Linked DNA regions of Homo sapiens. The protein of the gene in region 7 purifies or fractionates together with the protein of the main gene of each other region. This does not show direct contact. Each region holds a gene or a part of one and is shown on either strand. Other genes may lie near its edges.

The links.
Region 1: the proteins of CAP1 (region 7) and SCPEP1 fractionate together in Homo sapiens (co-fractionation; one large-scale study listed by BioGRID). This does not show direct contact.
Region 2: the proteins of CAP1 (region 7) and PLOD1 fractionate together in Homo sapiens (co-fractionation; one large-scale study listed by BioGRID). This does not show direct contact.
Region 3: the proteins of CAP1 (region 7) and OGA fractionate together in Homo sapiens (co-fractionation; one large-scale study listed by BioGRID). This does not show direct contact.
Region 4: the proteins of CAP1 (region 7) and TPD52L1 fractionate together in Homo sapiens (co-fractionation; one large-scale study listed by BioGRID). This does not show direct contact.
Region 5: the proteins of CAP1 (region 7) and TTC38 fractionate together in Homo sapiens (co-fractionation; one large-scale study listed by BioGRID). This does not show direct contact.
Region 6: the proteins of CAP1 (region 7) and SEPTIN9 fractionate together in Homo sapiens (co-fractionation; one large-scale study listed by BioGRID). This does not show direct contact.

What each region holds. Positions count from the first base shown.
Region 1 is NC_000017.11:56,998,631-57,002,130, reverse strand, and holds part of SCPEP1 (retinoid-inducible serine carboxypeptidase precursor), read right to left. Parts: intron 1,277-3,500; coding exon 1,139-1,276; intron 114-1,138; coding exon 1-113. UniProt on the Homo sapiens protein: May be involved in vascular wall and kidney homeostasis.
Region 2 is NC_000001.11:11,955,217-11,958,716, forward strand, and holds part of PLOD1 (procollagen-lysine,2-oxoglutarate 5-dioxygenase 1 isoform 2 precursor), read left to right. Parts: intron 1-1,700; coding exon 1,701-1,798; intron 1,799-2,625; coding exon 2,626-2,727; intron 2,728-3,299; coding exon 3,300-3,431; intron 3,432-3,500. UniProt on the Homo sapiens protein: Part of a complex composed of PLOD1, P3H3 and P3H4 that catalyzes hydroxylation of lysine residues in collagen alpha chains and is required for normal assembly and cross-linkling of collagen fibrils.
Region 3 is NC_000010.11:101,794,445-101,797,944, reverse strand, and holds part of OGA (protein O-GlcNAcase), read left to right. Parts: intron 1-1,973; coding exon of another isoform or gene 1,974-2,104; exon of another isoform or gene 2,105-2,464; coding exon of another isoform or gene 2,465-2,544; exon of another isoform or gene 2,545-3,500.
Region 4 is NC_000006.12:125,226,773-125,230,272, forward strand, and holds part of TPD52L1 (tumor protein D53), read left to right. Parts: intron 1-2,345; coding exon 2,346-2,494; intron 2,495-3,500.
Region 5 is NC_000022.11:46,288,508-46,292,007, reverse strand, and holds part of TTC38 (tetratricopeptide repeat protein 38), read right to left. Parts: coding exon 3,420-3,500; intron 2,607-3,419; coding exon 2,447-2,606; intron 2,183-2,446; coding exon 2,109-2,182; intron 1-2,108.
Region 6 is NC_000017.11:77,487,499-77,490,998, forward strand, and holds part of SEPTIN9 (septin-9), read left to right. Parts: coding exon 1-54; intron 55-741; coding exon 742-823; intron 824-1,228; coding exon 1,229-1,366; intron 1,367-3,243; coding exon 3,244-3,361; intron 3,362-3,500.
Region 7 is NC_000001.11:40,057,729-40,061,228, forward strand, and holds part of CAP1 (adenylyl cyclase-associated protein 1), read left to right. Parts: intron 1-1,605; exon of another isoform or gene 1,606-1,608; 5' UTR 1,609-1,618; coding exon 1,619-1,730; intron 1,731-2,338; coding exon 2,339-2,442; intron 2,443-3,500. UniProt on the Homo sapiens protein: Directly regulates filament dynamics and has been implicated in a number of complex developmental and morphological processes, including mRNA localization and the establishment of cell polarity.

The DNA.
Region 1 (3,500 bases), on a different chromosome or scaffold from region 7:
GACAAAAGCAGATGTTTCCAAAGATTTAGGGTCACTGTACAGGGCCTTCCACTTCAGCTGACTGAATTTAGGCAGTTCTGGCCACTTCAGTTTCCGCACCCAGGCCTCCTGACCTGGTGAGAAGGACAAAGAGAAAGGCCTGGCATTAACAGCTGGATAGAATAGGAAAAAAGTCTAGGTCCTAAAAGTTGGTGCTTCCCAAACTGCAATATGCATGAAACTCACTCAGGATCTTGTTAAAATGCAAATTCTGATTCAGAAGATCAGGGTAGGGCCTGAGCATCTGCATTTCTGACTCCCAGTGAAACCTAGGCTGCTGGGAGAAACCTAACAGCTGCAAAGCCTGACTGATTTTGCCTCTGCATCTCTCACCGCCATCTGCTCTTTAGGAAGGGAACTGGGGACCTCTGGAGGCAGACAGGCCTGTGAGGAGGACTGAGAGATGTCGTGAACGAGATAGTGATAAGGATCACCTGGGATGTTCATCGAGAAATGCAGCAGCTTTCCAAATTGTCCTTGGTGTCTCTTGTTTACCCATCACAAAAATATTCAATCCTTCTGGTTCACGAGGCGTGTCACATCCGTCAGACCTTGTGCCTCAATTACCCTGCCAGTTCAGAGAACCTGTCTCTGAGCCTCCACCAGGCCCTATTTAATTTGGAAGTGAGCAAATTAAACAGGTGGTAGGTGATAGGGCAGGAGTCAGGATTCCACAAAGACCATTTCCCCTGGGTCTTCAGGGTTACAGTCATTAGGGTTTAGTTTTAATTCACTCTGCAGTGGTCAACATCGACTGTGATGTCGCACAAAAATGAGGCTCTCCCTTAATTAAACAGCGCATTTGCCCAATAACCAGGAAAATGTCTAAGTTTTGTGGTAGAGACAGGTGGTGTTCTTTTCTTTAATCATACCTAAGGGCCCCCAAACCCAGGTAGGCTCAGGCTTCTGAGGGGTCACAGCCACGTGCAGCTCCCCACCCTTTGAATAATCAAGGTCGGGGTAGACGGATGTAATGGGAAATGGCCTTCCACCTGGCATTTCAACATCACCCACCGCAAGACTGACATGTCCAAGGCCAGTTCCCTTCCAGTTGAACCCATAAAACTGCCTCTAGGTGCCTCTCAGAGTCAATTCCTACCCATGGTATCTACGATGAGATCCAGCTGTCCATTATACACCGTCACGTTGATCCCTGCCTCCAGCAACTCGTCCACAATGCTAATGACTGGCTTCATGAAGTCCTCCTCCATGTTCACAAAGACGTTGGTAGCCTGGCCTGCACATGGGGAAGGAGAAAGAGGGAGTAGCTTGGAATCTGCCAAAACAGGAGGTACCTTTCAGCCCAGAGCATCTTGGGCTCCAGCACCGAACAACGACTGAATGCACAGATGCTTCACAAACAGGGATGAACCAGCCCAGAAATTTGTGCCGACTGGTCAGGTGTAAGGCACACATAAATAGCACATGTGGTCCATTCTCTTGAGAGCTTGTGATGACAGCAGGCACCATTTTTAATGAGGAATTGACACCTGGAATAGGCTACTGTCCAAGGAAACAGGGAGGGAGAGGCCCAGGAAATACTCATTAGGCTGGTACACTCAGGGAATAAATTGTGCTTTGGGCCAATGTCAGTTTTCCTGTTTTTTTGAGTAACACCAGGGCCAAGTTTCAAGTTCTGAACAGGTAGGCCTACCTTATAATAAACCAGATCAAACCTAAACCAATTCAGAGCTGGCCCTCAGGAAAGCCAAATGAATAACAAGCCCCAGGCAAGAGAGGAGCTAGTACTCTTGCTAGCTCCTGCCCATCAGCATTATCCTAACACTGAATGACAGCAATAAGAGTGGCAGCCACCATTATTTGCTAGTCACTGCCAAGGAGGCATCTGACAAGCAACATCCCATTTTCTTCTTCATTACCTTGGGAGATAAGAAGTCTTCTTTTAAAAAAATTTAATTTTTATTTATTTATTTACTTATTTGAGACAGAGTCTCACCCTGTCACCCAGGCTGGAGAGCGGGGGCACAATCTCAGCTCACTGCAGCCTCTACCTCCCAGGCTTAAGCGATCCTCCCACCTCAGCCTCCCAAGTAGCTGAGACTACAGATGCACACCACCACGCCCAGCTCTTTTTTTTTTTTTTTTTTTTAGACAGAGTTTCACTCTTATTGCCCAGGCTGGAGTGCAATGGCACAATCTTGGCTCACCGCAATCTCTGCCTCTCGGGTTCAAGCGATTCCCCCACCTCAGCCTCCCAAGTAGCTGGGATTACAGGCATGTGCCACCTCACCCAGCTAATTTTGTATTTTTAGTAGAGACAGGGTTTCTCCATGTTGGTCAGGCTGGTCTCGAACTCCCGACCTCAGGTGATCCGCCCACCTTGGCATCCCAAAATGCTGGGATTACAGGCGTGAGCCACCACACCCGGCCACACCCAGCTCTTTTCATTTGAGCTAATTTTTCTTCATTTCTAAAATTCTCCCAGCACTCAGGAGTAATGAAAAAACCAGGGATGGAATGAGACCTCTGGTGACTGCAGGTTGGGAGAGGAGGGCCCATGTCCCCTGAGAAAGCTCCCAGCAGCAGCAAATCGTAGGCTCCCAGCAGCAGCCGCAGGACCACTGACCCCATATCCTTGGGGTATCTTGAACACACATGAAACAAAACCCTCTTAGGTTTGGAGTATTTTCCCTTCAGAAACCTGAGATCTCTGCTTGCTCAAGGCCTCCCTATAGGACTAAAGTAGGAACTTAACCAAGATTTCTACCTGGCCCTGGTCTCTAAGGATTTCATTATTTCCTCACCATGGCCTTGAGACCAGAACGCAGTAATGCCTGGCCATATCCAGCATCAGGATGCCTGGGGAGGTCAGCAAGAGAGAGCTGGTCAAAATCTGCCCGAGCACCTGGGTGTCTCTGACATCCTGCAAGGACCTTTGGCGCGAAATCTCATCTGCAACCAACTGTGGCCTTCGATGTAGCTTTTTTATCTTAATTTTTTATTATGGAAAATTTCAAATGGATAGAAAGGAGAAGCATACAATGCTCCGATGTACCCATACCAGGCTTCAACAATTATTAACTCACAACCAATTACACATTATTTCCCTCCCCACTCAGCTCCCTACCAACTCCTTATTTTGAATCAATTTTGATGTCTTTTTTTTCCCCTTTTTAAGAAACAGGGTTTCTCTCTGCTGCCCAGGCTGGAGAGCAGTGGCATAATCATAGCTCACTGTACCCTCAAACTCCTGGGTTCAAGCAATCCTCCCACCTCAGCCTCCCAAGTAGTTAGAACTATATGCCACATGCCACCATGCCCAGCTAATTTTTCTATTTTTTTAAAGAGATGGGGCTTTACTATGTTGCTTAATTGTGGCCTCAAGCAATCCTCTCAACTCAGTCTCCCACAGTGGTGGGATTATAGGCGTGAGCCACTGCATCCAGCCCTGACAAGTCATTTACTGTCTCTGTATCTATTTGCTCACCTACAAAACGTGG
Region 2 (3,500 bases), about 28 Mb from region 7:
AGGTGAAGGAGTCCTGGGCTAGGGGCAGGAACTCAGCTGGTGGGACAGGCAGCTTGGGAAGCAAAAGGCTACTTGACCCTTGATGCCGCAAACATCCCTGGGCCTGGCCTCATGTCTGTGGCTGGTGATGACATTGCTTTGCCGCAGGTCTTCCTGTCTTCCTGAGTGACCTCAGGCAAGTCACACCTCCTCCCCACAGGGGACTCAGTTTTCTTATCTTTACAAAAGGGAAGTGAACCGGATCCACTGATTGCTGATTTTGTGGATAAATGGGCCCTTTTGAGAATCTGATGAAAGCTACGGCTCTGCTCCCAGAGAAACGCAGAAAATGCCCTTTGCCTGTGGTTTCTGGGGGTTAAGAAGCACTGAGTTCAGATCCACGCAGGTCAGGAGCTATCTGTTTTCCTTTTTTTTTCTTCTTTTTTAAGATGGAGTCTTGCTCCATCGCCCAGGCTGGAATGCAGTGGCGAATTCTCGACTCACTGCAACCTCCGCCTCCCAGGTTCAAGTGATTCTCCTGCCTCAGCCTCCCAAGTAGCTGGGATTACAGGCGCACACCACCATGCCCGGCTAATTTTTGTATTTTTTTAGTAGAGATGGGGTTTCACCATGTTGGCCAGGCTGGTCTCGAACTCCTGACCTCAGGTGATCCACCTGCCTTGGCCTCCCAAAGTGCTGAGATTACAGACGTGAGCCATCGTGCCCAGCCCTATTTTAATTTTTAAAATAGAGACAGGGTCTCACTATGTTGCGCAGGCTTGTCTCAAACTCCTGGGCTCAAGTGATCCTCCCACCTTGGCCTCCCAAAGTGCTGGGATTACAGGTGTGCGCCAGCGTGCCCAGCTGAAATACCCATTTTCCTATGTGCAGACTAATAGGGTCAAACATGGGTATTGGGGGCCAGGCACTGTAATCCCAGCACTTTGGGAGGCCAAGGCGGGTGGATCACCAGAGGTCATGAGTTCAAGACCAGCCTGACCAACATGGTGAAACCCCGTCTCTACTAAAAATACAAAAATTAGCTGGGTGTGGTGGCATGTGCCTGTAATCCCAGCTACTCAGGAGGCTGAGGCAGGAAAATCACTTGAACCTGGGAGGCGGAGGTTGCAGTGAGCCGAGATCATGCCACTACACTCCACACTGGGCAATAGAATGAGACTCCATTTCTAAAAAACAAAAAACAAAAACACACACAAAAAACATGAGTATTGGAACCCTGCTGCAGGGGCTCCCTCCACTGGGACAAGATCTGTCCTGATCATGCCCAGGCCTCCCCTGCATGTGGCTCTGGCATTTTCTCAGTGCTGCTCTGCCTACTCAGAGAAGGCGCGTCCCAGACCCTTTCTCTTGGGGCTTCTCTGAGGTGCCTGGAGCTGGGATGTTCCAGGTCTTCGTTCTTCTCCCAGCCCCTGCTTCTGACTGTAAGTAACCACAACAAGTACAGGGGTTGCCGTGGATTCTGTGCTCATGATGGGCCAGGCTTGGTGCCCCACGCTTGTTCAACACAAATCCTCCCCCTCACCCCATGAAGAAGGGATTATTCCTATTTTATAGATGAGGAAACTGAGGCTTAGAGAGAAGTGACTTGCCCGAGGACATAATCTACTCACTGCACAGCTGGGATTTGAGCCCAGCTGGTTGGACCCTGAGCCTGACCTCTGGGTCTGATGCTGGGTGGGACTGTGCTTTCTGACCCCCAGATGAGGTCGTGCTCAAGTTTGAAATGGGCCATGTGAGAGCGAGGAACCTGGCCTATGACACCCTCCCGGTCCTGATCCATGGCAACGGGCCAACCAAGGTAGGGGGTCCCCAGCCCCTGGGGAGTGTGGGAGGGGGCCAGAGCCCTAATTTCATTCTCACTGTGACCCCACAGTGTCTCCCTGGGGCCAGGGCCACCTTCCTGGGGCCTGCTATGAACTCACTGCCTCTGTCCTCACATCTGAGCTCAGCGTGATGCCTTCTTTTCCTGCTGTGGTGGTCAGTGGTACTCTGTCTGTTCTTGCTGGTCACAGGACACGTAGGAGGCTGCCATCCCCTTCCAGGCCTAGGCTGGGCTACCAGAGCCATCTGCACTGTCACCCCAGGGCAGAGTCACTTATTCACTCAGTAAACCTTTATTTCATGTTTGCACCAGACAGTAAGACATAGTCATAAGCAGGACGGATGTCCTGCATTCATGGTGACAGAAGGGACTGGGTGCAGATGCGGCCAGGGACAGAATGGACCTCACTGGTCCCTGGGGAACTGGCTCATAGCTCATAGCATATTTGAGTGTGGTCCTTCACCGCTGGAATGAGGGAGAGGAAGGAGGATGTGATGTGTTTAAAATGCAAATTTGCTGATTTCACCCAGGATCTGTTCAGATGGAATCTCTGAGCGGGGTGGGACCCAGGAATCTGCATTTTACAAGCTCTCGGGAGAAGCACTAGAGTGCCAAGCCCTCCCCTGCCCTCTCTCAGAGCGGCTTGGTGATCTCCTGGGGATGGAGCATTATCTCCAAGACCCTCTTAGGGAGTGGGAGGGGGCTGGATGGTGCTGACCCACTGGGGGCCCAGGGAGATGTGAGTCAGGGCTATGGCAGGTGGGGCTGGCTGGCTTCTCTGTGACCCCACGTCTCCCCGACAGCTGCAGTTGAACTACCTGGGCAACTACATCCCGCGCTTCTGGACCTTCGAAACAGGCTGCACCGTGTGTGACGAAGGCTTGCGCAGCCTCAAGGGCATTGGGGTGAGGCTGCGCCCAGGCCTGTGCCTGAGGGACACGGGGGGCTCAGTCCCCTGAGATGGCGAGATGGGTGATTCTGGAATAGACTCCATTGTCTTTGGTGGAAAGTGAAGGGGTCACCTCCCTGCCTGGGGTTCTATCCCGGTTGCCACCCAAGTGCCTCCTCCTGGAAGCCCTCTCAGATTGCATGTCTCTAGCTTCCCCCGAGATGTCCAGGTTCTGGTTTCTTCTGCCTGGTCCTTCAGGCTCTCCTGCAGCCCCCTCCCCATCCCATGAACCTCATCCTCATTTATGACTCACCTCGAACACCACGCCAGCCACGATCTCCTGACAGCAGGCCCTCAACCGAGTCCTTGTTCCAGGCCTGGGCTCCTGCTGCTCTCTCCCCGGGGCACCCTCCTGCTGCTTCCCTGCCCCCCCGTACCCCCTGACTGGAGTTCCCCGGCCCGGGCACCTTTCTTGGGAAGTCTACATGCTTCTGATTCTGGCTCTGACTCCCTTGGGCCACCCTGGGGTGGAGTGGCAGTGCTGTGACTGGACACTGCTGGACTCTTGTGCCGCCCTCCCTGGTGCAGGATGAAGCTCTGCCCACGGTCCTGGTCGGCGTGTTCATCGAACAGCCCACGCCGTTTGTGTCCCTGTTCTTCCAGCGGCTCCTGCGGCTCCACTACCCCCAGAAACACATGCGACTTTTCATCCACAACCACGTGAGTAACAGGCGCTCTGTGGGGTCGTCATGTGGCTTAGATCCAGGGCCCAGCTTCACAAGGTAGCCC
Region 3 (3,500 bases), on a different chromosome or scaffold from region 7:
ATATTGTCCCTTTAAAAAAAATTATCCCACAGGGAGAAAAACATTTAGGGAATTGGCACATTTCCAAGTCTCTTCAATTCGTTGCCTAGGTTTCTTTCAAAAATAGGCATTATTGAAGACTTGAGATGCAAGTCTTAGTAAATACATCAAGCACATTAATTTTTCTCCCTTGGGCTAATTCAGCATAAGTATCTTAAAAGTATGTTAGAAAGTACTGACTTTAACTTGCTCTGACTGAATGCTTTCTGGATGGAACCCTGTATACCACTTTTATCTGATTTGGAGATGAGACACTATGAAATGTGACTCCACAAGCTTTCTGCTGCTTGCTGTGTCTTGATAACATTAATGCTATGTTTAACAGAACAATTGCTGAAATGACCTAAAGGGCCTGGCAAGAGGAAGCCATCCTCCCAGCCCTGTGCGCATGCGAGCTTTAGTGTAAGGCTATTCTGGTGCTATTCAGTATTATTTCACGTGGCTTTTTCTTTATCCTTCTACCAAGTATTGGTTTTACCAGGGGATAGAAATTGTAATCCCCTAAACATCTCTGCTACATTAAATGGACTTTTGTATGTCTCCTTTGAACACTGATTTTTTTTTTTTAAATTGTCAAACTTGGTAAAAAGCACCAGCATGGCCAAGTTTCTCTAGGGACTTCATTTCATTTTCAGGTTTTCAATCCAGCTATAAGGAATATGTAATGGACTTATATACAGCACACAGCAGGCAGCAAGGCTGACTGACATGTCATAGTTTTCATAGTAGTCACAAATACTATGATGGGTTTCATGGTCTTGGTTGTGAAATAGATATCTGAAACACCGTGAGCTTAGAATAAAAAGTAGTAGTGAGATTTTCCACTTTCTGCCTGTATACCTTTGAGCTCTTAAATATTTAAAAAAAAAAAAAAAAAGTTTCCCTGTGATACAACTAATTAGCTACTAAAAGTAGAGTCTCAGATTGTTAATTTGAAAATAGATAACTTTTTTTGGATTGCTGTAATAACAGGTAGAAGAGAGTATTTTGACCTCATGTTAAAAGGCTCTGTATAGCTTCGGGCGCGGTTGCTCACCCCTGTAATCCCAGCGCTCTTGGTGGCTGAGGTGGGTGGATCACTTGAGATCAGGAGTTCGAGACCAGCCTGGTGAAAACCAGCATGAGACCAGCATGGTGAAACCCTATCTCTACTAAAAAAATACAAAAATTAGCCAGGCGTGGTGGCGCATGCCTGTAATCCCAGCTACTTGAGAGGCTGAGGCAGGAGAATTGCTTGAACTCAGGAGGCAGAGGTTGCAGTGAGCTGAGATCACACCATTGCACTCCAGCCTGGGCGATAGAGGGAGACTCCATCTCAAAATAAATAAATAAATAAAGGAAATACTGACCGTGCGCAGCGGCTCAAACCTGTAGTCCCAGCACTTAGGGAGGCCTAGGCGGGCAGACCACAAGGTCAGGAGTTTGAGACCAGCCTGGCCAATATGGTGAAACCCCATTTCTACTAAAAATACAAAAATTAGCTGGGCGTGGTGGCATGTGCTTGTAGTCCCAGCTGCTTGGGAGGCTGAGGCAGAAGAATCACTTGAACCCAGGAGGTGGAGGTTGCAGTGAGCCGAGATTGTGTCACTGCACTCCAGCCTGGGTGACAGAGCGAGACTTCATCTTGTGGGGCTGGGGGGAGGCTCTGTATAGCTCCTGTACATGGGAGACATCTACCCTTAGGCTCAAGAGACCTCAATATTGGTTGCTGGATGACAACATTTGCCTTCCAGGTTTCTGCTCAGGTTCTTATAATTCATTCTTATAGGGATTTAAACTTAAGTTTCTAAGGCCCTTAGGAATTTTGAACCTGAAATCTGGATTATTGAGCTTGAAATGTATTACAGAAAACATTTGATATTCAGTTTTTAATTTAAGAATTATTAAAAGTTAAATTCTTAATGATACACAGTATTGTTTCTTTCTCTTCTCAGGGTTTATCTCTGCACTGAGCATTTATGGTGGTAGCTTTCCAAAATTATATAGATACCTCTTACACAATCTCAAGCTCTTACAGCAAGCTTGTCCAGCCTGTGGCTCAACACAAGTTTGTAAACTTTCTTAAAACATTGTGAGTTTTTTTATTTTTTATTTTTTTTAAGCTCATCAACTATCATTAGTGTATTTTATGTGTGGCCCAAGACAGTTCTTCCAGTGTGGCCCAGGGAAGCCAAAAGATTGGACACCCCTTGTAACATCTTAGAAGTTTTAAATAATTATCTTCATATCCACATAGCTTTACAAAAGCTCACGACAGGGAGAGTATTTTCTTGGTTCTGTAGTAATTTCAGGGGGTTTACTGATTGGAACCCTTCCTTTTCCTCCTCTCTCCAGTCCAGCTGGCATTCAGTCCTTTAAACAATGTGGCTATGCAGTACTTTTGATTACTAATGACTTCTATTATCTTCTTCCCCATTGTGTACAGATGGGAGAATCCTCAGCACAAGTGTCTACTACTATTGGATGGACAGCGGCAGATGTTCACAGCGCGTCATGATTAATTAGTTTAAATTGCAAGGTTCTATCTGTGAGGTAGCTCAGGTAGATTTAAGGGCGGTAGACATGAACTGAAGTCACGTTTGCGCAGCGACTGAGGCATTAACCATGTTTTCATTTACACAGCTCTTCGTACATGCAGCTTTTTATTGTAATAGTTGGAAGTGCTAGTTATGTTGTAGTCTCAAAGTAGGGGGTAGGGGAAATTGGCTGATCTTAAAGTTTGAGAGGTATAGTTTTTTTCCTGCAGTGTAAATTACACTGAGTTACGGAATGGGACAGGTTCTCGTATAGTCTAAATTTTGACCCTGTTTCATATTTATTTTACAAATACTACATTTTATGTTTTTTAAAAGTACCCCTACCCTTGAAAAATGACAAACCAGATACAAACTCTTAATGGGCCTGAATTGTTAACAAAAAATTGGTTTGCTTTGGGACTGTCTGACTAGCACACTATATTTGTACTGATGAGACTGTTAACTTGAACAGGAGGTAGAATGCTGTCTTCCAATGGAAAAGAACTATATTGCGCTGCTTTATCTTGTCAGAAGACTAGGCAAGTGATTTTGATTTGGCCTCCAAACATTTGCCTTTATGTCTTACTGTTAGCTAGCGTTATTGCCTATTAAGTTAGTTAACTGGTGACCTTAAATAGAGACTTCTGTATTCCATGTGTATGTTCAGTGTATTGCAAAGATTATTATAATGGCTGGTCAGAGGAACCAGATACTGTCATACTTTTAAGAAAAGTATATTTAGCTCTGGGCAAAATAACATCAATTGGCTCTCCTTAGTTCTCAGAATCTGTCAGACTGGTATTATTAGCCAAGTCTGATTTTGAATTGTTTTTGTCCAAAAAAATTTTTCTCATTATGTTTCATTTTGTCAACTTAATTTCTTGTATTTTATTCTACTGACCTTAGTTTTCTGACAAGATTAATCCTTCTCCCCCGCCCTTTTCC
Region 4 (3,500 bases), on a different chromosome or scaffold from region 7:
CAAGCATTTTCTGTGGTAAAAGAGCAAGAGATACAACCATGAGAAATATTGGGCAGCAGATTAAATGGAGGAGGACACATTGACAAAGATGAAAAAGAGAAATATGACATGATAACAAAAGAATAGAAGGGCTTAATTTTAAAATAACAGTGTATTCTCATTTAATGGAGAGACTAAAAGCATTATTCTCTTTACTGGTCCCTAAACATACTCCTTTTACAGTAATCAGTGTATGTATGCACACTGAAGACTCTTGCTCATCAAGGAAAGACAGGGTTCTATTGATTATACTATGTTTGTAGAATATGTAATTCACTTTAGATTTTAGAAAGATGTCCATGTACATATAAAAAATGTTCTGTGAACATAAAGAAATGGATAATGTTAAATTGCCAGGACATTTTGCTGATATTAAAAACCCCAAGATATTGCTACTTCTTACTGTGGTATTTAAGATGCTTGTGATTCAGTATTTCTGCTTGTTTTGCTTACGTGATTATTTGTGTATATAAAGGTTCGCAAAACCATTTCTGTCTGTTCACTATTGGCGCTAGTGAAAGACTGGGGGGTTTTATTGCATGTTTTGCTTTTGCAAAGGCAGATGCCCTTCTTGAGCTGCTTTCCCAGGAGCTGTGACTCTGGTGATCCAAGGAACGCATTTGCAAGATGACTGACAGCCTGACAGGGTTGGTGTGATGCAGCTTGTGGTCCGAAGTAGAGTGACACTTTACAGTAAATGAGCCACAGTTGCTCCTTTTTAAAAAAAATTTAGTAAGAAATCCACTAAAGTGACAGAGTTTTATTACCTCCATGCATGTGGGATACTAAGGTAGTTCTAATGATTCTTTTCCGGCTTAACAAGGAAAAGTCACAAAATTTGTTTTCCATATTTCAGAAAACAAAGATGTAAATGTAAGCACTGATACCAGAGCAATATGTTATAGAGTATGACAACTAATTAAAATCAAAGACTTTGTGATTTATTCAGATTTATTTTCACAGGATAGAACAGCACTTTCCAAAATCTGAGTACTTTACAGAGCTCTTTTGTTAGAAATTGCATTTGCAAGAGCAATTTTATAGTGCTGAAGAGATCTGCTTTTCTGTAGCACAGGGGAAAGAGGAAATATGTCCATACGAAGCCTTGTACATGAATGTTCATAGCAGCTTTATTTGCATTAGCCTAACCTAAATGCCCTTCAACAGGCAAATAAACAACACACTTTGGCATATTCATTCAATAGAATACTACTCTGCAAAAAAAGGGGAAGAACCATTGATAATGCAGCAACATAGATGAATATAAAATAACTATCTGCAAAGCCAAGCAAAAATGAGTGTATACTCTATGATTCAATTTGTATAAAATTCTAGTAAATATCTGCAAACTAAACCCTAGGGAAAGAAAGTCAGTCAGTGGCTGTCTGGTGAGAGTGGATTGGGGGAAAGGAAAGAAGAGGGAGGGAGGAAGAAGAAGAAGCAAGTAAAAGGTGATGAATATGTTCACTTCCTTGATTGTGATAATGGCTTCACGGGTAGATACATATGTTAAAACTTACAAATTATACATATACACTTTAAATGTCTGCAGCTTATTGTATGACAGTTACAGGTCAATGAAACTGTTAAAAAGAAAAATCAACACAAATCACTCTTTTACATACATCCTCTAATCCCTTGTTCCTTCCTTTCTTAAGGCATTAGCTTGGCAAAACCCCATTGTCTGCCAATTCCATTCCTGCACCTATGCAACTGTGTGTGGTTGGCAAAAAATAAACTACACTGAGACCAGGCGTGGTGGCTCACGTCTGTAATCCCAACACTTTGGGAGGCCAAGACAGGAGAATCCCTTGAGGCCAAGAGTTTGAGACCAGCCTGGTCAACATAGTGAGACCCTGTCTCTTTAAAATAAATAAATAAAGTGGCACTTGAGAAGAAGTTATATAAAATAAGGGTACAGTAGAAAACCAATTTTTGTTCAAAAATTATGTCTATATACAACTTATAGAAAGAACATTTGGAAGTTTAGAAACCAAAAAATAAGCAGTGGCTATTTCCTAGCAGGATACAGGTGATTTTTATTTTCTTGTTTATGTTTTTCTGTACAATCTCACTTTTTTTTTTAACAAGCAGCATAAATTACTTCTATAATCATTAAAATGAAAAATTCTGTTTCTACTTTGAGATATTAGACTATCATCTGTATGGGGTGTATTTGGCAAACCTACACATGGGATTGTATAAATAGGAGGGTCAGAGGCTGCTTTGGAATACCCAGAGCTTCTGTAAGTATCCTTTTTTGCTGGTCTGACATTTTCCCCCACCATTTCCCCTCCGCCTTGTAGCTAGAAGACGAAATTACAACACTACGACAAGTTTTGTCAGCGAAAGAAAGGCATCTAGTTGAGATAAAACAAAAACTCGGCATGAACCTGATGAATGAATTAAAACAGAACTTCAGCAAAAGCTGGCATGACATGCAGACTACCACTGCGTAAGTATCATATGAACAGTGTTTTATTAACTCAGCCTGATGTCTCCTCACTCTGTTGTGTTTTGTTTCATTTTTCCTACAAGGCTGATTTGGTGCATGAAGCTAGGAAAAAAAAATACTTTCTCTAAAAGCAAAGCAAAGAAATGTGAATAATCATTAAGTATGCTGCATGTGAAGCAGATTCTATAAAGTAGCTTCATGAAATAAAACTCTGTTCACTGAAACTCTATTTTCACTCAGACTACTTTCATTAGGTTTTATTGTTTAAATGTTTTTCTCTTTATATTTTTAACATTTGTCAAATATACTTTTTTTAAAACTTTTTCTCATAAAAACTATAAATGGGAAGGTGTTTTCTCCTCAGCACACTTGACACTCACTATGTATGTCTTCCAAAAGTGGTTGGCAGTTTCAATACTGACTTGCTGGCAATTGATTTACAAAGAAAACCTTGTACTTTTCATCTTTTGTTTTGCACTTTTCATTCTCACTATTCTAGGGAATATTTAGAGCTGGGTTTAGACCAGTTTTAGAGCTTGGTTTAGATTACAGTTTTGGCCCTGTAATCCCAGCACTTTGGGAAGCTGAGGCGGGTGGATCACAAGGTCAGGAGATCAAGACCATCCTGGCTAACATGGTGAAACCTCGTCCCTACTAAAAAATACAAAAAATCAGCTGGGTGTGATGGCATGCCCCTGTAATCCCAGCTACTCGGGAGGCTGAGGCAGGGGAATTGCTTGAACCCAGGAGGCAGAGGTTGCAATGAGTCGAGATGGCGCCACTCCACTCCAGCCTGGCGACAGAGGGAGACTCTGTCTCAAAAAAAAGAAAGGAAGAAATGGTTTTTGCTTTGCCATTATCGTCCTGTCTTGTGCTAGGTAAGGTACAGAATAATCTCAGTTATTCTACAATCACACTTTTTTTATTAGATTATTCTTAAGTTGCATGAAATATTTAATGATGATGGTACTTTTCTAATGTTGCAAAGTATTTTACCTGCTGGGGG
Region 5 (3,500 bases), on a different chromosome or scaffold from region 7:
TGCCTACTGTGCAAGCCGCCCAGACTGTGGCACTTTTATTTTTTAATTTTTTGAGATAGAATCTCCCTCGGTCACTCAGGCTGGAGTGCAATGACGCGATCTCGGCTCACTGCAACCTCCACCTCCCAGGTTCAAGCGATTCTCCTGCCTCAGGCTCCCGACTAGCCGGGATTACAGGTACCCACCACCACGCCCGGCTAATTTTTTGTATTTTTAGTAGAGGCGGAGTTTCACCATATTAGCCAGGCTGGTCTTGAACTCCTGACCTCAGGTGATCCACCCGCCTTGGCCTCCGAAAGTGCTGGGATTACAGGCATGAGCCACCGTGCCCGGCCTGTCTGTGGCACTTTTAAAATAACAACCCAAACTGACTAAGACAGCCCCCAAACACCTGAAAACAGTGGTTCTAGAGGGCGTGGGTGGTGTGAAGGGGCTGGGGCCGGGAACTCATTGTGGGGGGCACCATGGCTGTGGGTGGAAGGTTTCCCACCTTGGGGGCTGGTGAGCTGTGCTGATGGCCCCATGGATGCTGCCTGGTAGCAGGACAGGACTTGGAGAGAAGGCCCCCTCCACGTCTCCTAATGCAGTCGGCTCCCTGTGCAGCCTGCTCTCCCCCTGCCCTCCCCCACTGGGCCCCGCAGAAGGCCACATCGGCACTGCCGCACTGCCCCACAGATGTCACCCCAGCTCCATCCTCAGCCCTCCTGTCCACACAGCCACTTTCCCCACCGCTGCTGCCAGAGGCACCAACTCCCACCCACACCACAGCCTGAGCTCCCCAGGGGGCTTGACCACCAAAGAAACACGCATGGTTTTGTCTACAGCCATGGAAGGGGAAAGCGGGGAGCATGCGTCCAAGACATTTTACAGTTCTAGGCGGTTCCAGTGCTGCCAGCCAGACCTGTTTCATGAGTACCACAGAACCTGTACAGCTCAGTTTGGGTAACCCTGCCTGGAGGGAGCTGCGCTGGTGCACCTGCGCCTAAACCACTGGGCTTGTCACCAGCCAAGGGCCTCCTGTGGACCCGGGCTGCCACCTGCTCTCACAGCACACCTTCCCCACCAGGCACCCCATGACTCCTCTATTCTTCCTTTCACTTATGTCTGAGGGTGGCAGGGACATGGGCAAGGAGAGGTGTCAAACTCGCCGCTCAGGCACACGGGCTACGCAGCTGCTGGCCAAGAGCTCAGCAGCCTAAGTGGAGGGAGGCAAGCTGGGCCATGGAAGCACCAAGGCTGCTGGCAATGGTGAGGGCTCTTTGGAGTTCCCCCAGCACTCTCATCTGCCAGCTATGCCACCCTCCTGACACTCGCCTGCCAGCCACACCACCCTCCTAACACTCACCCTCCAGCCACGCCACCCTAACACACCTTCCAGCCACGCCACCCTCCTAACACTCACCCTCCAGCCACGCCACCCTCCTAACACTCACCCTCCAGCCACACCACCCTCCTAACACCCTCCAGCCACGCTGCCCTAACACACTCACCCTCCAGCCATGCCACCCTAACACTCACCCTCCAGCCACGCCACCCTCCTACCAGCCCCATGCCTGGCCTGGCTAAACCCACTGTGGTTTCGGGTCTGCCCTCAGCTGCTGCTCCCTCAGTGCGAGTTTACGTGTCTGTGGGACTGATTGCTCCCTGTCGCTCCCCCGACTACAGATGGGCTCCTGGTAGCCAGTGACTGGTGTGCCTGCTCACTGCTCCCTCTCGGTACCCAGCACAGGCAGGCAGGTGAAATGAGCTGAGGTCTAACTGAGCATTAGGTGTCGGCCAGGTGCAAAAAAGGAGAAAGGGTGTTCCAAGCGTGCAAAGGCCCAGGAGCCTGAAAGAGCAGGACGTGTTTACGTACCCAGGTAGCTTAGCAAGGCTAAAAGGGAGTGGGCTGGGAAGGGTGGGAGGTTGGGCCTGGGGTGGGGCTGGCTCCACTTGGTCACACTGAGCCTGCTAACAAAGGAGAACCAAATTCCCCACAGCCTCCCGACCTCACAGCCTCAGAAGCAGGAGCATCTCGGGCCAAGGGTGGTGGGGCTTCCAGGCACTCCTGAGGTCTGCAGGGAGAGCCTGTGAAGGTCGGGAGTGCTGGGCAGGGGCCAGGAGCTCACCGGGCTACGTTCTTATGGACGCTGGAGGTGCAGTTTAAGGCCGCGTGAATCAGCAGCTGGTTGAAGACGTCTCTCTGAAATGTCAATCGGGCATGTGAGTCTCCTGTACCTCAGGATGGGGGAGGCGAGCCCCCGCCCACCGCGGGCTGCCTGCTCTCCAGGGAGACAGTGGTGTTGATGCCACACCCTCAACGACGAACTTACACGGCGGGAGTGTGAGAGACACGTTCACACCCACATTGTTGGCACCAACACCATGGGAGAAACTTGGGGGCTGCGGGGCGCCCAGACTCCCTGGCCCAGGCCCTAGGCACCCCAGCTGGCGGCCATCGGCTCACCTGGGCATTGCTCCCACCGAGCTGGACGATCCGGTAGCGGATGGGCAGGAGCAGCTCCAGGACGCGGTCAGGGTTCCCGTCCTCAGCCTCCACCAGGGCCTGGCACAGGGGCAGCCCCACGTCTCGGGCCAGGAGGTGCTGGCAGTTCTCCCCTGGGGATCTGCGAACCCAAGACGGTGCCCTCAGCTGCCTGCCCATCACAGAACATCCGGGAAGGGCAGAGCCATTTCTTCCTCAGCGAGGTGTCCCTGGTCCAGTGCCTGACACATGCCACACTGATGAGGTGAGGTGACAGGCGGGGCAGCCCATCGAGGGGACAGGACAGGGTACTGAGCTCAGAGCTGGGTTGGAGTTCGCCCACTTCCAGCTACCTGGTCCCCCACCTTCCAGCCTCAGTTTGCTCATCTGTAAGCAGGCATAACAGTGCCAATCTAACAGAACCGTCAGGATTGCTGATAATACAGGCAAAGGCCTGGCACTGCAAGCCAAGGCAATCATCACCCCCGGAAGGGAATGGGCAGGGCAGCCCAGGTCCTCCAGGTCAGCCCTCACCAGCTCTTGCCAGGCATCGCCCTGATTTAGATGGGGAAACTGAGGTTCAGAGCACAGAAGCACCTCGTCCAGGACCTCAGGGCCTGTAAGCAGCAGGTGTCTCTGGCTTCAGGGCTTCACTGTGTCCTCTCCACGGGAGGCAGCCCTGTGACCCTGCGGATCTCATACCCACCCTGGGGATGGAGGCAGCTCTGTGTCTTGGGGCAACCAGTTGTACAGCTGTGGGTGTACACACCTTGGGGGTCTGCACCAGGGGATGCACATCTATAGGGGTGCACACCTGGGAGCTGCCTCCATGGGCATCCCCCCTGCTGCACTCACAGGCGGGGCAGGCACTGAACAGGTCTCAGCATGGCCCTAGCACCCCCTCACCCTCTCGGCAGGGTGAGGACCCCCACCCCGAGAAGGCCCCTCTGCATACTCGCTGGCGTCCCGCAGGGTGGTCAGCAGCTCCTGTGTGGTCTGGGGGTCGTGTGCACCCAGGGATGCCATCAGGAAGTGT
Region 6 (3,500 bases), on a different chromosome or scaffold from region 7:
CCACCTCAGAGGAGCGCATCCCCAAGACCATCGAGATCAAGTCCATCACGCACGGTCAGTGGCCGGGAGTGGGCTGGGGGTGCAGGACGCCCCTGCCTTCCTGGAGCACAGGGGTTGGGGGTCAAGACCATCACACACAGTCAGTGGCCAGGGGCGGGCTGGGGGTGCAGGACTCCTCTGCCTTCCTGGAGCACAGAGTGGGGGGTCAAGACCATCACACACAGTCAGTGGCCGGGAGTGGGCTGGGGATGCAGGACGCCCCTGCCTTCCTGGAGCACAGGGGTTGGGGGTCAAGACCATCACACACGGTCAGTGGCTGGGGATGGGCTGGGGATGTGGGATACCCATGCCTTCCTGGAGCACTGGTGCGGTGTGAGGGTGCCCGAGTCAGGCAATCCCAGGTCCCCAAGACGGGGACTCGCTGTGCCCACCATCCCCAGCATGTTGAGCATGTTGGGGCTCTGGCTGTGATGGGTCAGTGTCCCGGACCCCTGTGGGCCCCGTCACACTGAGCTCCCCACAGACAACTGAGTTTTCCACCAAAAGTCTGACAGGCAAGGGGCTCCCAGGGGAACCGTCACCGGCCTGTGCCGGAGTTGGCTGAGGAAGGCCATTAATTTCCCGGTGTCTCCTTGGTTGTCATCGCTGCCTACCTGGGGTTGCCCCGGGGTCAGTCAGGTGTGGGGTGTCTGTGAGGGTCTTCCGTCTCCCCTCTGACTCTGCGTCCGTGGCTCTGTGCAGATATTGAGGAGAAAGGCGTCCGGATGAAGCTGACAGTGATTGACACACCAGGGTTCGGGGACCACATCAACAACGAGAACTGGTGAGGCCCCTCCAGGGGGAGGAGCACTAGCGGGGGCTTCAGGGCTCCCTGGACCCCACCCAGAGTCAGCCCTAGAGGTTTCCCGGCCCGCGGGGGTGCAGGGCCCACCTCCTGGGACCTGACATGCTGCCAAAGCCGCACGTCTCAGGGGCCTGAAAATTCTGGACCAAAGCAGAATTACCTGGGGAATCTTGCTGTCCCCAACTCATCACCTGAGGCCAGCCCGGGGAGGCTGGTTTGGGAGGCCGAGGGTAAGGCTGTGGCATCTCCGCTCAGCAAGCCAGACCTCCCAGGGCATGCATTTCATTGGAAGGTGGGGTGTTGGGCTCTGAGTCCTGGGAATGCACGACCTGCTTGGGGAGGGCATCTCATGTGCCTGCTGACTCGTCCCCATCCCCCACGCAGCTGGCAGCCCATCATGAAGTTCATCAATGACCAGTACGAGAAATACCTGCAGGAGGAGGTCAACATCAACCGCAAGAAGCGCATCCCGGACACCCGCGTCCACTGCTGCCTCTACTTCATCCCCGCCACCGGCCACTCGTACGTCCCTGCAGTGTCGGCGTCCTCATGCCGGGTGCCCTGGGTTCCCTCTGTCCCCTGGGACTGCAAGACGGTGCTGTCTGCCCTGCTGCTGGGTGCAGAGGGGCTGAGTCAGGGGCCATGGCCGCCAGCTATGAAGTTGGGGGTGTGCCATGTCTGCACCTCCAAAGCCTCACACTGACCCCTATGCAAGTGTCCTGCCCAGCCCCCATCCTTCAGCTGCGTCTTGGGGAGCTGAGGGTCAGGCAGGCCCTGGGCTGTTCTGGAGCCTGGTGGTCTGTGTCCTGCCTTCTCAGGCCAGGCTCTGGCAGGTGGAGTGGGAGCCCCCAGCCAAGCACCCGTAGCGGTGACTGACCTTCTCATCCGGGCCCTGCCTCATGGGACCCCTTAGAGGGTTTGGTGCGTTCTTAGACGGGAAGCACAGAGATCAGTGCTGGCCCCTTCCAGGGCTGGACGGGGCTGCTGTTGGTGTTGGTGAGAGCCCTTTCCTCCCGCCGGCTCTGTCCGCACCTGACGTCGCCCCTAGAGATCAGCAAGGGCGGGAGGCTGCATGTACCCTGGCAGGTGGACTCTTCATGGCCTCACGGACCCTCTGTCCTCAGCTCCCTGTGCACCCCCTGCCAGACACCTGTGGCTCACCCTGAGCCAGGGCTGGGAGGAGGAGGACCAGAGGCCAGCAGGAGTGGCTGGTGGAGGCAGCCGTGGGTGGCTTGTCTGCATGGGTGGGTGGAGAAGGTCCTTCGCACCTGCTGTCCCAGATGTACTTCCCTGGGCGGAGGAAGCCCAGGGGTTTGGGGAAACCATACTCTGTGGGCACCAGGTGCAGGAAGGAGCCTGGCTGGTGGGCAGCGGGCCTCACCCAGAGTCTGTGGGAAAACCCAAGCCGGAGTTTTCGAGCCCACCCTCTGGCATCATCCTCTGTGGGCCAGCAGGAGTCAGGGGCAGGGGGCCAGCCCGCTGTCCATGGGCCTCTCCTGAACTGAACATCTGCCCTCCCAGGCAGAACGGCTCACCTGCGGTCCTGTGGCAGCTGTTCCAGCTGCTCCAAGCTTTGCCTCAGCTGAGGCTGATGGCAGGAGGCAGAAGCCTCTCCTGATGCCAGCTGGGCAAGCCGAGGGCGGGCGGGCGGTCTGTGGCACTTCTGCCACTCCCCAGCACTGACCCTTTGGCTGGGACTCCAGCTAGGCATGTTGCCTGGTCCCGCCCAAGGCGTCCAGTCCCATGGGGCAGGGGCGGGCCTTGGCCATCTCTGCTTAAACTTCTGCCCGGAGCGGGCTTCTCCCCAGCCATGTGTGTGACCGATTTATTCTCACTGTGGGAAAAGCTCGGCTCCAGAACTGGGGAAGATGGTGCCCCAGTTCCAGGGCCCTGCCAGCCCCTGCCACCCACAGCTTTCCCCACATCAGACCCCAGGCTCACTGGGGCCAAGCAGGCAAGGGGAGCAGCCCGCCTGGTGCAGGGGAGCAGCCCGCCTGGTGCAGGGGCACCGCACACTGGTGCTAGCTTCTATTTCTCTTGCCTCTCCCCTCCCAGCCAAAGCCCCACAGCAAGACGGCTGCTGAGCCAACGACAGCCCTTCTGTGTGGACATGTAGGGGTGTGGTTGGGACCCCAGAACTCATGGACGAGGGTGCTTGGAGCTGGCCCTGGCCCGCCTGGCCTGTGCAGTGGTGTCACCTGTGTCTGGGACACACCCGTGTCCTTCCTCTGCCCCACACTCACAGCGTGGCCGACTCGGCCCGGGGCCCTGTCCTTGCCAGCAGGGACCCCCGTGAGCCCCGAGCCAGCACCTGAGAGTGTCGACACCTGCTTGGGGGTGGGTGCCCCCCCACTGCCCCGCTCCCCCAGATGAGCCTCACGCACATCCCTCTGCTTCAGCCTCAGGCCCCTGGACATCGAGTTTATGAAACGCCTGAGCAAGGTGGTCAACATCGTCCCTGTCATCGCCAAGGCGGACACACTCACCCTGGAGGAGAGGGTCCACTTCAAACAGCGGGTAGGGTTCCATCTCTACTTGCCCCAGCCCTTCTGTGCAACCTGGAGACGCTGCAGGCCTGGCAGGGGCCACCCCGTCTAAAGGAGTCACACTGTCAGGGAGACCGAACCGCTGGTCACTCTCCCCAGCGGGTGGCTGG
Region 7 (3,500 bases):
GTCATTTTAGGCAGCTTCAAGGGAGTTGAGTTCATTCAGCTTCAGTTACCTGAACTGAATTCAGTTGCCTGAATTGACGCTTTTGTGAAATGGAATCTTTCCAAGTCAAAGCTTGGATTGAAATTTCACTGACTGGTTTTTATGAGATCACTTAGGGTCTCAAATACTTTATGTAGAGGTGCATTGATCATATTTTACACTTATGTGTGACTTATGGGCAACTTTTAGCACCCTTATCCCTCTGGAGTTTTGGAATGCTATTTGTGAGGTTTATAACTTCATAAATATTTATTGAACATCTACTACCTGCCAGGTAGTAGTCTAGATGGTAGAGTATACAGTAAGGAACAAGCTATATAAGGTCCTTTCTCTGTTGGAGCTTACTTTCTTTGGGATATTAGACATTGAATTAGGCTATTTCAGATAAGATAGTACTTGTGAAAGATCTATAACAAATTCTTTTGGATGTGTCTAGTGTCCTTCCCTACTGCATGTCCAGATCTTTCTCATCTTCATTTGAAGGCTGGCTCAAATGGCAGCTTCTCCATCATATCCTTATCTGATCCTTCCAGCTGATATATTACTCCCCTCTTTGAAATCTCATGCCTCTCTATCAGCAACTTTCTTATGTCACCTTAACATTTTTTTCTATTTGTTTCATAGTTGTTAGTGCATATGTTAAGTCTCCCCATTAGACTATAAATTACTGAGGGCAGGCCGGGCACAGTGGCTCACGCCTGTAATCCTAGCACTTTGGGAGGCCAAGGCGGGTGGATTACTTGAGGTCAAGAGTTCAAGACCATCCTAGCCAACACAGTGAAACCCTGTCGCTACTAAAACTACAAAAAATTAGCTGGGCATGGTGGCGCACACCTATAACCCTAGCTACTTGGGAGGCAGGAGAATCCCTTGAACCCAACAGGGTGGAGCTTGCAGTGAGCTGAGATCCTGCCACTGCACTCCAGCCTGGGTGACATTGTAAGACTTTGTCTGAAAAAAAAAAAATTATTGAGGGAAGAGTAAACATCCTATTCATCTTGGTTTGGGATATTTCACATGCAGGCAGCAGGATGTTGTAGGAAAAAAACACACTGAACTTAGAACCAGAAGGATCAGATAAGGATATGATGGAGTACTGGCTTCTCTATTCACTGGCCGTGTGACTAGACAAGTCATTTAGCTTCACTGAAACTAAGTTTTCTATCTCTAAGCGTGTAGTAATCATCCTTCTATTCCTGAATAGTTGTCGGGAGGCTCAAACTGAGATAATGTATGTGACTATCCTTTGCAAATTCTAACTTTCTACACACAGTATCATAGTAAATATTGAGTATTTGAATGAGTAAGCATTTACTTTAGTGAACACCTTTTCCTGAGCAGTTCTCTTGCTTAATGAGGTCTTTTGATTTTGTAAATATGCTACTTTTTTATCTGATATTTTTGTATTGTTCCATTTTGCAGATGATATCTAATTTTATTAAATTATTCTGTTCCTGAGAATTGGCATCCTCTTCATCCACCTGGGGATGACCAGGAATTTTCTGTTTTTTTCTCTGTAGGTGCTATTTAATATTTAAATAACAAATGACATTTGATCTGTTTCAGCAGGTGGTCCATTATGGCTGACATGCAAAATCTGGTAGAAAGATTGGAGAGGGCAGTGGGCCGCCTGGAGGCAGTATCTCATACCTCTGACATGCACCGTGGGTATGCAGACAGTCCTTCAAAAGGTAAGCAGTCCACAGCCCAGCAGAATGCTTTCTTTGAGCGTCTTGGCCTGAAAATTTTCTATTATTCTCTCCTTTGGCGCTAACTTCCCAAAACTTAATCTAGAAAGTTTACCTTTTGTAATTTGTATTGCTGTGAACAGATAAGAGAGGAAATGACTTGTACAGGGAGGCCTGTGGTTAAGTTATTTTAACACAAGAACTTCCTGCTTGTGCAATATTTCCTGCTCTTTCTTTAGCAGAATGACTCCAATGTAAGTCAAATGACAAGTGATAATAAAATTCCTCTCTCCAAACAATTGGCAAATTGGACATTTTGCACATGCACCAGTTGGAACATAGAATGTTAGCACTAAAAAAAACCTTGGAGGATCATTTTGTTTATTTTCATTTTATAGATAAAGAAAATTAAGCTCAGAGAGGAAAAGGAATTTAGTCAGGGTCACACAACCAGTTAGTGGTGATACTGGACCTGGAACCCAGGTTTCCTTACTCCTGTTCTGTATCCTGTTGACTGTATTACCTTGCCTCCCCACTTTCATGTAGAAGCACGTTTTAAAGAAGCCTCCTTCTGATGCATGGCTGATTCTTTGTGGTGTGTTTGTCTTTAGCAGGAGCAGCTCCATATGTGCAGGCATTTGACTCGCTGCTTGCTGGTCCTGTGGCAGAGTACTTGAAGATCAGTAAAGAGATTGGGGGAGACGTGCAGAAACATGTAAGGATGTTTTGCCTTTTTCCCCTTCTTTTAAGGACTAACAGCTTTCTTCAGTCAGCCAAGGTCCTCATCCTTGGTTTAAGAGCTCCTTGAGAAGTTCCTCTTGGTTTGGGGCATTACACATGTTCTTTCTCTTTTGCCTGTACTGAGGAGTTCAGTCTAGCCACAGAAACGATTCCTCATTTTTTTCTAGGCCCCTTGCTTTTATCACGTATTTATACAGAAAGCTTGCTTGGTACATAAAATATGGTTCTGTTCATCTTTGTAGTGAAGAATATGCACCAGTTTGATCCCAACATATTACATAATCAAACCTACAGTGGCTTATTTAAAGGAGTCATTATCATGACTTAGCATTTATAAAACTATGCTTGATAGTTATTAGTTATGCTAATGTGGGTTATTTTCACACTTAACCCACAGCAAGAATATGAAGTAGGCAATGACAGGTGCCTTTCCTCCCACCTTCCTTTATGCCTCCTACGTCATCACCACCACCCCCCACCCCCACCCCACACTCACATATACATTCTACCTCTATTTTTGGGACCCAAAAACCTTCCTGCTAGCTCACCGAATTATAAACAGTAACCATGCTTGGGAACTTCTTCACCTAAACCTTTCTCGAAGACTGGTTGCTTGGCTTTTGGAAAATCTATTTTGAGCCTCTCAAATACCATCTGTTGCCAATGGTTTTAGCTCTAGAGAGTGGGACTGGGACTTTAATAAGGGTGTGGAGGCTTGCATTTTTACTTAATACAGTTCTGTAACATTTGAAAAAACTTTAAAACATTTATCATTTGTATTTTAAAAATGCAAATCCAGAAAAAATAGATTGCTTTCTTTGAATTTTTGTATTTTAATAGTGCTTACAGTCTCATGTTTCTTAAATTCTTTTGACTGCGAATGACCCTTAGAAAGAAAGAACATATTCGTAACTGAGATAAAAGTTTCACAAGATGATATTTATACTACTTCTGCTGTACTTTTTTTTTTTTTAACTTTTTATTTGGAAATAACTTGAAGTTGGTGCACTGCACTCATACTTTTGTTCCATT